Linked DNA regions of Homo sapiens. The protein of the gene in region 1 interacts with the protein of each later gene in a pairwise test. Each region holds a gene or a part of one and is shown in the gene's direction. Other genes may lie near its edges.

Region 1 (5,751 bases):
CCTCTGACCAACTTTCCCTCCGTATTTTGAACATTCGGAGGCACCAGGGGTCCAGGGGCTTTGAGGTGGCTCTAGAATCCCCCTCTGTGAGCCTCCTGGGCCCATGGGGTCTATGGGGCAGAGGGAGGCCCGTCTGCTGCAGGTGAATGCCAGTGACTGTTTTCCTGCTGTGTTTTTCCACGCTGGATGGGGCACCTCTCCCCCAGCCTTGCTTTGAATGGGGGCCCCTGGTTGAGCGTGGGAATCAGTGGGGCCAGGGGACAGAGAAGGTCCAGGACCTTGTGGGGTGAACACACGCATGGTGGTCCAGCCCCAGGGGCTCCTTCCCAGCAAGCGCGGAGTGGGTAGGCCCGAGGGTGGGAGGCCGAGCTGGGGCGGCGGGGCCGGGGCAGAAAAGCCCCACGGCCCCATCCCCACGGAGAAGCGGCGAGAGGGACGCCGCCCGGGTCCACGCGCGTGCGGCCGCCCTCGGACCCCTCCCGGCGCCGCCTCACTCGCCCGCCTTCCAGTTCGGCCTACGACGCCCGGCTGCGCCAGAAGGTGGCGGTGAAGAAGCTGTCGCGCCCCTTCCAGTCGCTGATCCACGCGCGCAGAACGTACCGGGAGCTGCGGCTGCTCAAGCACCTGAAGCACGAGAACGTGAGCCGGGGGAGGGCCGTGGGGGGAGGGCGCGTGCGGGGGCGGGGCCGCGGCGCAGCCAATAGGCGGGCGAGCCCTGGCGATGGGGGCGGGGACACAGGGGGCGCGGCCTGGCACTGGGGGCGTGGCCCGGGGGGAGCTGAACGACAGCCGGGGGTTCGTCGCCCGGCCCTGACGCCCCCCGCCACCTAGGTCATCGGGCTTCTGGACGTCTTCACGCCGGCCACGTCCATCGAGGACTTCAGCGAAGTGTGAGCGGCGGGGCGGGCGAGGCAGCGGGGAGCGCGTTCGCGGTGGGGCGGTGGGGCCCTGTCCTGACCCCCTGACCCCGCCCCAGGTACTTGGTGACCACCCTGATGGGCGCCGACCTGAACAACATCGTCAAGTGCCAGGCGCTGAGCGACGAGCACGTTCAATTCCTGGTTTACCAGCTGCTGCGCGGGCTGAAGGTGGGGCGCCCTGGGCTTCGCGGGTCCTCTCGCAGGGGGGCGGGCGGGCCGGGCCCGGCGCTCACCACAATCCCCCTCCCGCAGTACATCCACTCGGCCGGGATCATCCACCGGGTAGGTGCGACCGCAGGGTGAGGGTCGGGTCCAGCAGGGCTCCGTCCCAGCCTCCTGTGCTCACGCTCCGCGTGACCTGCAGGACCTGAAGCCCAGCAACGTGGCTGTGAACGAGGACTGTGAGCTCAGGGTGAGGCCCGTGGGCAGGGGTGGGCAGGGCGGCGGCGGAGCCCGTGCGGAGCTTGAGAACACCACGTGGTCGCCCCAGATCCTGGATTTTGGGCTGGCGCGCCAGGCGGACGAGGAGATGACCGGCTATGTGGCCACGCGCTGGTACCGGGCACCTGAGATCATGCTCAACTGGATGCATTACAACCAAACAGGTGCAGGGGGAAGGCCTTGGGGGGACGAAGGCCAAGGGCCTCGTCTGGCCCTCGACTGGCTCTGCATGCCAGGTCTTAGGGGGCAGGCAAGGTCCCCAAGAATGTGGGACCCACATTCAAAAGTAGCCCTTCAGAGGCCGCTAGAGCATGATGGGTGCTGGCCTCCTCTGGCTGTGCAGCTATGGACCTCCCCCTGCCTAGGGGGGTTGGGTATGGCAGAGGAGGGGGTCTGCCCATCTTGGGGTCTGGATGTGACTGTGGGTCTCCTGGAGGAGGGACGTGGGGTGGGCACACTGATGGAGGTCCCCTCGCCCTCGCACAGTGGATATCTGGTCCGTGGGCTGCATCATGGCTGAGCTGCTCCAGGGCAAGGCCCTCTTCCCGGGAAGCGACTGTATCCTTGGCCCAGGTTGGGGAGCAGGGTCAAACAGGGCCCCTCCTGTAGGGTAGGGACCAGCGCTGGCCCCTTCTGGCGGGTCTTGCCTCCTCTGCCCCCCATGCTATGCTACTTTGGGCTGGCCATCCTCACCTATAGGAGAGCGGGCTCTGGGCAGCGCCCCAAAGTTTTGGGTCTGGGGGCCCAGGAGGGGTCTGTGGCTGGCCCGTGGGTGTTTCCTGAGTGACACAGACATTGACCAGCTGAAGCGCATCATGGAAGTGGTGGGCACACCCAGCCCTGAGGTTCTGGCAAAAATCTCCTCAGAACACGTGAGTTGGTGCCCGCCAGCCAGCAGCTCCCTCTCCTGGCTGAGCCCCCAGGCTCTCTGGGGGAGAGGGTGGTGTGGAAATGCGGGGACCATATGGGGAACATGGGATGTGGTGGGATAGAGCCTAGGGCAGGTGCCCAATCCCTGCAGGGGAAACAGGAGAAGGGGGAAGACATTCCTGACACCAGGGACAGTGAGTGCAAAGCCATGACCCCAGCAAGCAGTGCCTGGCCAGGGCAGTGGGGGTGGGCTGGGGGCCCAGCAAGCAGTGCCTGGCCAGGGCAGTGGGGGTGGGCTGGGGGACCCCAGCAAGCAGTGCCTGGCCAGGGCAGTGGGGGTGGGCTGGGTGGAGGGAGTGTACTTGGACCCAGCTCCTGCAGGCATTAGGGGCCAACTGAGGAGCTAGAACCACCAGATCCTATATGGAGGGGGTCACTGGTCTGCCTGTGCCCTTGTCCTGGCCTGTTGGAGTGAATGAGTCTGGGGGCTTGCCAAGAGAAGCCCCAGTTTGGGGCCAGGGAGGCAGAGAGTGAGCAGCCTCCCCAGGTGTTCTTGTGTGCCCCCAGGCCCGGACATATATCCAGTCCCTGCCCCCCATGCCCCAGAAGGACCTGAGCAGCATCTTCCGTGGAGCCAACCCCCTGGGTGAGGACTGCCCTGGGCTAGACTGGGCTCCATATCTGGCCCTGGATGTACAGCTGACCCCCCTCCCCACCACTGGCTTCCCTGCAGCCATAGACCTCCTTGGAAGGATGCTGGTGCTGGACAGTGACCAGAGGGTCAGTGCAGCTGAGGCACTGGCCCACGCCTACTTCAGCCAGTACCACGACCCCGAGGATGAGCCAGAGGCCGAGCCATATGATGAGAGCGTTGAGGCCAAGGAGCGCACGCTGGAGGAGTGGAAGGGTGAGCATGGCAGTGGCTGGGGGTGGGTCCAGGGGCCTGCGGGCTCCATTTCCCCAGAGGCAGGAAATGCCCCAGTTCCTCTCCAGACTGGTCAGGTGTGGAAGGGCGTTCAGGTGTCCAGCACAGGCTGGGAGCGGGGCGGAGGAGTGACACAGGGCAGGTTCTGGCTCCCAGACTGTGCTGAGGCTGCTGTCACAGGGTGGTGGGCCTGGGCTGGGTGGCAGGTGCCAGACAAGCAGGTGAGGGGCCGGGCTGTGGGAGGCACAAGCTCACCCTTTCCCTTCACCTCCTAGAGCTCACTTACCAGGAAGTCCTCAGCTTCAAGCCCCCAGAGCCACCGAAGCCACCTGGCAGCCTGGAGATTGAGCAGTGAGGTGCTGCCCAGCAGCCCCTGAGAGCCTGTGGAGGGGCTTGGGCCTGCACCCTTCCACAGCTGGCCTGGTTTCCTCGAGAGGCACCTCCCACACTCCTATGGTCACAGACTTCTGGCCTAGGACCCCTCGCCTTCAGGAGAATCTACACGCATGTATGCATGCACAAACATGTGTGTACATGTGCTTGCCATGTGTAGGAGTCTGGGCACAAGTGTCCCTGGGCCTACCTTGGTCCTCCTGTCCTCTTCTGGCTACTGCACTCTCCACTGGGACCTGACTGTGGGGTCCTAGATGCCAAAGGGGTTCCCCTGCGGAGTTCCCCTGTCTGTCCCAGGCCGACCCAAGGGAGTGTCAGCCTTGGGCTCTCTTCTGTCCCAGGGCTTTCTGGAGGACGCGCTGGGGCCGGGACCCCGGGAGACTCAAAGGGAGAGGTCTCAGTGGTTAGAGCTGCTCAGCCTGGAGGTAGGGGGCTGTCTTGGTCACTGCTGAGACCCACAGGTCTAAGAGGAGAGGCAGAGCCAGTGTGCCACCAGGCTGGGCAGGGACAACCACCAGGTGTCAAATGAGAAAAGCTGCCTGGAGTCTTGTGTTCACCCGTGGGTGTGTGTGGGCACGTGTGGATGAGCGTGCACTCCCCGTGTTCATATGTCAGGGCACATGTGATGTGGTGCGTGTGAATCTGTGGGCGCCCAAGGCCAGCAGCCATATCTGGCAAGAAGCTGGAGCCGGGGTGGGTGTGCTGTTGCCTTCCCTCTCCTCGGTTCCTGATGCCTTGAGGGGTGTTTCAGACTGGCGGCTCCAGTGGGCCAAAGGGCAACCACATGAGCATGGGCAGGGGCTTTCTCCTTGGATGTGGGACCCACAGCAGCTTCCTGAGGCTGGGGGTGGGTGGGTGGGTGGTTTGGCCTTGAGGACGCTAGGGCAGGCAGCACACCTGGATGTGGACTTGGACTCGGACACTTCTGCCCTGCACCCTGGCCCGCTCTCTACCTCTGCCCACCGTTGTGGCCCTGCAGCCGGAGATCTGAGGTGCTCTGGTCTGTGGGTCAGTCCTCTTTCCTTGTCCCAGGATGGAGCTGATCCAGTAACCTCGGAGACGGGACCCTGCCCAGAGCTGAGTTGGGGGTGTGGCTCTGCCCTGGAAAGGGGGTGACCTCTTGCCTCGAGGGGCCCAGGGAAGCCTGGGTGTCAAGTGCCTGCACCAGGGGTGCACAATAAAGGGGGTTCTCTCTCACTTGGCTTGTATCCAAAGGCTACTCCAGGCCCGGGTGCCCCCACCATCCCTGCTGCTGGGCGTGGGGGGAGTGTCTGGGTCATCCTGCATCACTCACCTCCAGCTGGCCAGATCCCTCAGGCCCCCAGTCAGACCAGCGGCCATCTTCTGGCACCCTCCCTGCTCCCTGGAGGGTCTGAGAGCCCAGGGGGACCAGGGGAAGACATGGCTGATGGGCAGACTTTGAGGGCACAGGGTGTGACAGCCACCCAGATGGTGACCCCAGCTGCCCTGTGGGGATGTACTGGGCAGGCTTGGCTTTGGGCCAAGATCCAGACACCACCCCCGCCTACCCCTCAGTGTTCAGGGAAGCTGGCTGGGGAGAAGTTGGGTGTCTCAAGGAGCAAGGGTCTGCCCATCCCTGGGTGGGGGCTGGGCAGGGTAGGGAAAATAGCTTTCCTTTCCCTCCTGGTGAAGGAAAAAGAGGCCACTTTAACCCAGGGAATGTGCACGCTGGTCCCGTTCCCACTACGCGCTGCAGCTTATGTGTGGGGGAGGGTCCAGGCCATTTGGGGTCAGGCAGTGTCTCTAAGGACCAGGGACAGTCTGTGCCCTTGCTTGGGTCTTGGGTAGGGGTGGAAACCGTCTGGGAGTTGGGGGCCTCCTGGGGCCTGGTCAGTGTAGTGGTCAATCCCGGGGGAAGTCCAGTGTTGGCGGTTGGGGGTGGGAGGAGAATGGTGACACAGCCCCACCTCAGAAGCCTGGTCCGTGCAGGGCCTGCTGGACCCCTGAGCCCCACCACGGGGAGTAAGGGGGACAGCGTGGAAGCTGGGCTTCCTGGAAGAGGTGGATGGAGTGCCACAGGCAGCCCAGGGCACAAAGGGTATGGGCCACAGGCAGCTGTGGTTTGGGTGGCCCTGGGCTGCCCCGCTCACTGGTCACGAGCTGGTGAATGCCGTGGAGCACGGCCCAAGCCCAGGTGTAAAGCTACTACCACCCTTGAGCGGCTGAGCTGCTGATTCATGG
Region 2 (5,083 bases), on another chromosome or scaffold:
CAGATTGCTTGAGCCCAGGAGTTCAAGACTAGCCTGGGCAACATGGTGAAACCCCTTCTCTAATTTTTTTTTTTTTAAAAAAAAAGAAAGAAAAAAATTTTTACATCTGTTTCATGAGGGCTATTGGTTTATAGTTCTGTTGTGGTGTCCTTGTTTGGCTTTGGTAGCAGGGTAATATAGGCCTTGTAAATGAGTTGAGAAGTGTTCCCTCCTCTGAGTTTGTATGGAATGATATTTCTTCCTAAAAAGTTTGATAAATTCAGTGCTGAGGCCATTTAGGCTTGGACTTTTCTTTGTGGATTTTTAAAATCTTTTATTTTGGAATAATTTTAGATTTATAGAAAAATTGAAAAAGTAATAGAGTTCCTATATATCCCTCATCTAGTACATATGTCAAAACTAAGAAGCAAACACTGGTATATTACTTTTATATAAACTTCAGGCTTTATTCAGCTTCTGGACTTTTTCTGTTCCATGATCTAATCCAGGATATCACATTAAATATATTTCCAGTGTGATGTTTATTTTCTTCCTTTTACTTACTGGGTTTGATTTGTTCTTCTTTTTCTAGCCTCTCAAAGTGGAAGCTTACAGGATTGATTTTAGACCTTTCTTCCTTTCTAATATAAGCTCTAAAGCTATTTATTTCCCCGTAAGCATTGCTTTGCTGCATCTCATAAATTTTTTTCCATACAGTGTCACTCTCAGGATATCATACTTTTTTTATGTTGTGTTTTCAGCTTCATTAAACTTGGCATCATTTTTAATTTTCCTTGTGGTTGTTTGATTTCTAAATATTTGGGGTTTTTTTGATATCTTTCTGTTGTTAATTTTTAATTAATTTTATTGTGTTCAGAGAATATACTTTGTATAATTTTAGTCTTTTTGAATGAATGAATGAATGAATGAATTGATTGATTGACAAGGTCTCACTCTGTTCCCCAGGCTGGAGTGTGATAGCATGATCATAGTTCACTGCAGCCTCAACCTCCTGGGCTCAAGTGATCCTCCCACGTCAGCCTCCTGAGTAGCTGGAACTAAAAGTACATGCCGCCACGCCCAGCTAACTTTTTTTTTTGTAGTAGAGATAAGGTCTCACTATGTTGCCCAGGCTGGTCTCGAACTCCTGAGCTCAGGCAATCCTCCTGCCTTGGCCTCCCAAGGTGCTGGGATTATAGGCCTTAGCTACCATGCCTGGCCTATTTTGTCTTTTTTTTTTTTTTTTTGAGACAGTCTTGCTCCATTGCCCTGGCTGAAGTGCAGTGGCATGATCTCACTGCAACTTCTGCTCACTGCAACCTTTGCCTCCTGGGTTCAAGCAATTCTCCTGTCTCAGCTTCCTGAGTAGCTGGGACCACAGGCACGCGCCATCACACCCAGCTAATTTTTGTACTTTTAGTAGAGACAGGATTTCTCTGTGTTGGCCAGTCTTGTCTTAAACTTCTGACCTTAGGTGATCTGTCCACCTAAGCCTCTCAAAGTGCTAGAATTACAGGCGTGAGCCACTGTGCCTAGCCCTATTTCTTCTTTGTTGCCTTCTTAAAGTCAAACAAACATTTCAGAAAACCACTGTCATTCTTCTGATTTTTCTTTTTCTTTTTCTTTTTCTTTTTCTTTTTCTTTTTTTTTTTTTTTTTTTTGAGATGGAGTTTTCGCTCTTGTTGTCTAGGCTGGAGTGCAATGGCAGGATCTCTGCTCACTGCAACCTCCGCCTCTTGGGTTCAAGCGATTCTCCTGCCTCAGCCTCCTAAGTAGCTGGGATTACAGGCATGCACCACCATGCCTGGCTAATTTTGTATTTTTAGTAGAGACAGGGTTTCTCCATGTTGGTCAGATTGATCTCAAGCTCCCAACCTCAGGTGATCCACCTGCTTCGGCTTCCCAAAGTGCTAGGATTACAGGAGTGAGCCACCACACCCGGCCCCTGATTTTTCTTTTTTTTAGCTTTCATAAAAGGGGTTGCATCTGTACCTAATCATAATCTATTACAAATTAATACTGACTTAATTCTGGTAAAAATACAGCCATTTTGGCTGGGCGCGGTGGCTGACGCCTGTAATCCCAGCACTTTGGGAGGCCGAGACGGGCAGATCACGAGGTCAGGAGATCGAAACCATCCCGGCTAACACGGTGAAACCCCGTCTCTACTAAAAATACAAAAAAATTAGCTGGGCGTAGTGGCGGGCACCTGTAGTCCCAGCTACTTGGGAGGCTGAGGCAGGAGAATGGCGTGAACCTGGGAGGCGGAGCTTGCAGTGAGCCAAGATCGCACCGCTGCACTCCAGCCTGGGCGACAGAGCGAGACTCCATCTCAAAAAATATATATATATACACAGCCACTTTGCACCAGCATACTTCTACTTTCACTCTCTTCCTGTGTGATACTATTGTCAAATATATTATAGCTACATGTTTAAAGCCAATAATCTAGTGTTATAATTACTGCTTTAAGCAGTCTCATGTTTAAAGAAGGTAAGGGAAGAAAAGAAAAATATGTATTTACCCAGATATTTATCACTTCTGTTGCTCTTCATTCCTTCCTGTGGATCTGAGTTATCATCCAGTGTCATGTTTTTCCAGCCAGACGGTTTCCTTTAATATTTCTTGCAGTACAGTTCTGCTGACAGTGGATTCCCTCAATCTTCGTTTACCCAGGATATAGAATTTTTTTTTTTTTTTGTGACAGAGCTTTATTCTTGTTGCCCAGGCTGGAGTGCAGTGGTGAGATCTCAGCTCACTGCATCCTCCACCTTCCAGGTTCAAGCAATTCTCCTGCCTCAGCCTCCCAAGTAGTTGGGACTACAGGTGTGCACCACCACGCCCGGCTAATTTTGTCTTTTTAGTAGAGACAGGGTTTCGTCATGTAGTTCAGGCTGGTCTCAAACTCCTGGCCTCAGGTGATCCACACGCCTTGGCCTCCCAAAGTACTGGGATTACAGGCGTGAGCCACTGTGCCCGGCCCTACCTGGGATATAGAATTCTTGATTGACAGAGTTTTCTTTCAGTACTTCAAATACGCCATCCCTGTGCCCTCTGGCCTCTATTATTTTTGATGGAAAGTCAGAGGAAATTATTTTTGTATCATGTATATGAGTCAGTTTTGTCTTGCTGGTTTTAAGGTTTTCTTTTTGTCTTCTGGTGTTAGTTTGACTGGGATGTATCCAAGTTCTTTCTTAATCCTACTTGAGGTCCATTTAACTTCTTGGGTATGTAGATTCAAGTTTTTCACCAAATTTGGAAGTATTTCATCTGTTATTTCTTCATGGTTTTTTTTTTCTGTTCCCTTTTGTCTCTCCCTGCTTTCTGGGATTTCCATTACATATATGGTGGAATGCTTGACATTCATCTTTTCACAAGTCTCTGAAGCTTTGTTCATTTTTCTTCAATTTTCTCTCTGTGCTTTGGATTGGATAATTTCTCTATATGGGTATCTATATATTCTAGTTCATTGACTCCTGTTGTGACTCTGCCACTTAGCCCCTCTAATATGTATTTCATTTCAGTTTTTGCATTTTCAACTCTGGAATTTCTATTTGGTTCCTTATTTCATAGTTTCAGTTTCTCTTGAGATTCTCTTGTTGATTAAGTATTAGTATATTTTCATTTAACCTTTTAACTTAATTTCCTATCGTTCTTTGAGCATATTTATAAATCCAGTATCTGGGATCACTGAGAGTCAGTTTTATTGACAGGGTTTTTTGTCTTGAGTGTAGGTCACACTTTCATGTTTCTTTGCATGTCTCTTATCTTTTTGTTGAATATTGACTTTTAGATAATCTAGCAACTCTGAGTTTTAATTTATTTTCCTGAGAGTTCCATATCCTAGTTATTCTTTTCTTTTTTTTGAGACGGAGTCTCGCTCTGTCGCCCAGGCTGGAGTGCAATGGCGCAATCTCGGCTCACTGCAAGCTCCACTTCCCGGTTTCACACCATTCTCCTGCCTCAGCCTCCCGAGTAGCTGGGACTACAGGTGCCCGCCACCATGCCTGGCTAATTTTTTTCTATTTTTTTAGTAGAGACAGGGTTTCACCATGTTAGCCAGGATGGTCTCGATCTCCTGACCTCGTAATCTGCCCGTCTCGGCCTCCCAAAGTGCTGGGATTACAGGCGTGAGCCACCCTGTAGGCCTCTGTTCAGTTTTTTTATTTTAACTTTTAATTTTTTAGCTTGGCTTCCAAGTATTGACTTTTTTATTTCTATTTTTTGGAATAGTTTAGCTAGTGAGGCGAATGCATTCAGAGTTACATTTAGTTCTGACGTCTCCCTTGGCTTTGACTTCTTCAACATTGTGTTGATGCATGATGATTAGCTTATTTGCTTTTTGCAGCATGGTATTCCATTGTATGAATATGCCACAGTTTATCAGTTTTCCTGATTGTGGACATTGATTTACATTTTTTGAGATTACAGATAACACTACTGCAAATATTCTTGTACATGTCTCCTGATGCACATGTGCAGGAGTCTTTTTAGTGTATATACTGTAAGAGAGTCACTAGTTCTTAGGATATAGAAACCTCAACTTTATTTGATATATATTTTTTTAGACAGTATCTCACTCTGTAACCCAGGCTGGAGCACAGTAGTGCTATCATAGCTCACTTCGACTTCAGCCTCCCAAGTAGCTGAGACTACAGGCAAGTGCCACCACGCCTGCCTGATTTAAAAAAAAAAAAATTTGTAGGTTGCTCACAGTGGCTCACACCTGTAATCTCAGCACTTTGGGAGGCCGAGGCGGGTGGATCGCCTGAGGTCAGGAGTTCGAGACCAGCCTGGCCAGTATGGCGAAATCCCATCTCTACTAAAAATACAAAAATTAGCTGGGTATGGTGGTGGGTGCCTGTAATCCCAGCTACTGGGGAGGCAGCGGCACAAGAATTGCTTGAACCCGGGAGGCGGAGGTTGCTGTGAGCCAAGATTGGGCCACCGCACTCCAGCCTGGATGACAGAGTAAGAATCTGTCTCAAAGAAAAAATATATGTGTATATATATAGTATTACCACCCAAGGGATTATTACACAGCCACTAAAAAAAAAAAGAAAAAAAAAAGACAAACATAGGTGAACGTTGAGGACATTATGCT

What was found.
Region 2: the proteins of MAPK11 (region 1) and SETDB1 interact in binary tests that used the Homo sapiens proteins (3 or more experiments, as listed by UniProt).

The regions. Positions count from the first base shown.
Region 1 is NC_000022.11:50,262,708-50,268,458, reverse strand, and holds the end of MAPK11 (mitogen-activated protein kinase 11), read left to right. Parts: intron 1-509; coding exon 510-639; intron 640-831; coding exon 832-890; intron 891-976; coding exon 977-1,088; intron 1,089-1,172; coding exon 1,173-1,202; intron 1,203-1,284; coding exon 1,285-1,332; intron 1,333-1,410; coding exon 1,411-1,525; intron 1,526-1,847; coding exon 1,848-1,919; intron 1,920-2,153; coding exon 2,154-2,233; intron 2,234-2,798; coding exon 2,799-2,877; intron 2,878-2,964; coding exon 2,965-3,138; intron 3,139-3,431; coding exon 3,432-3,511; 3' UTR 3,512-4,746; downstream 4,747-5,751. UniProt on the Homo sapiens protein: Serine/threonine kinase which acts as an essential component of the MAP kinase signal transduction pathway.
Region 2 is NC_000001.11:150,932,160-150,937,242, forward strand, and holds part of SETDB1 (histone-lysine N-methyltransferase SETDB1), read left to right. Parts: intron 1-5,083. UniProt on the Homo sapiens protein: Histone methyltransferase that specifically trimethylates 'Lys-9' of histone H3. H3 'Lys-9' trimethylation represents a specific tag for epigenetic transcriptional repression by recruiting HP1 (CBX1, CBX3 and/or CBX5) proteins to methylated histones.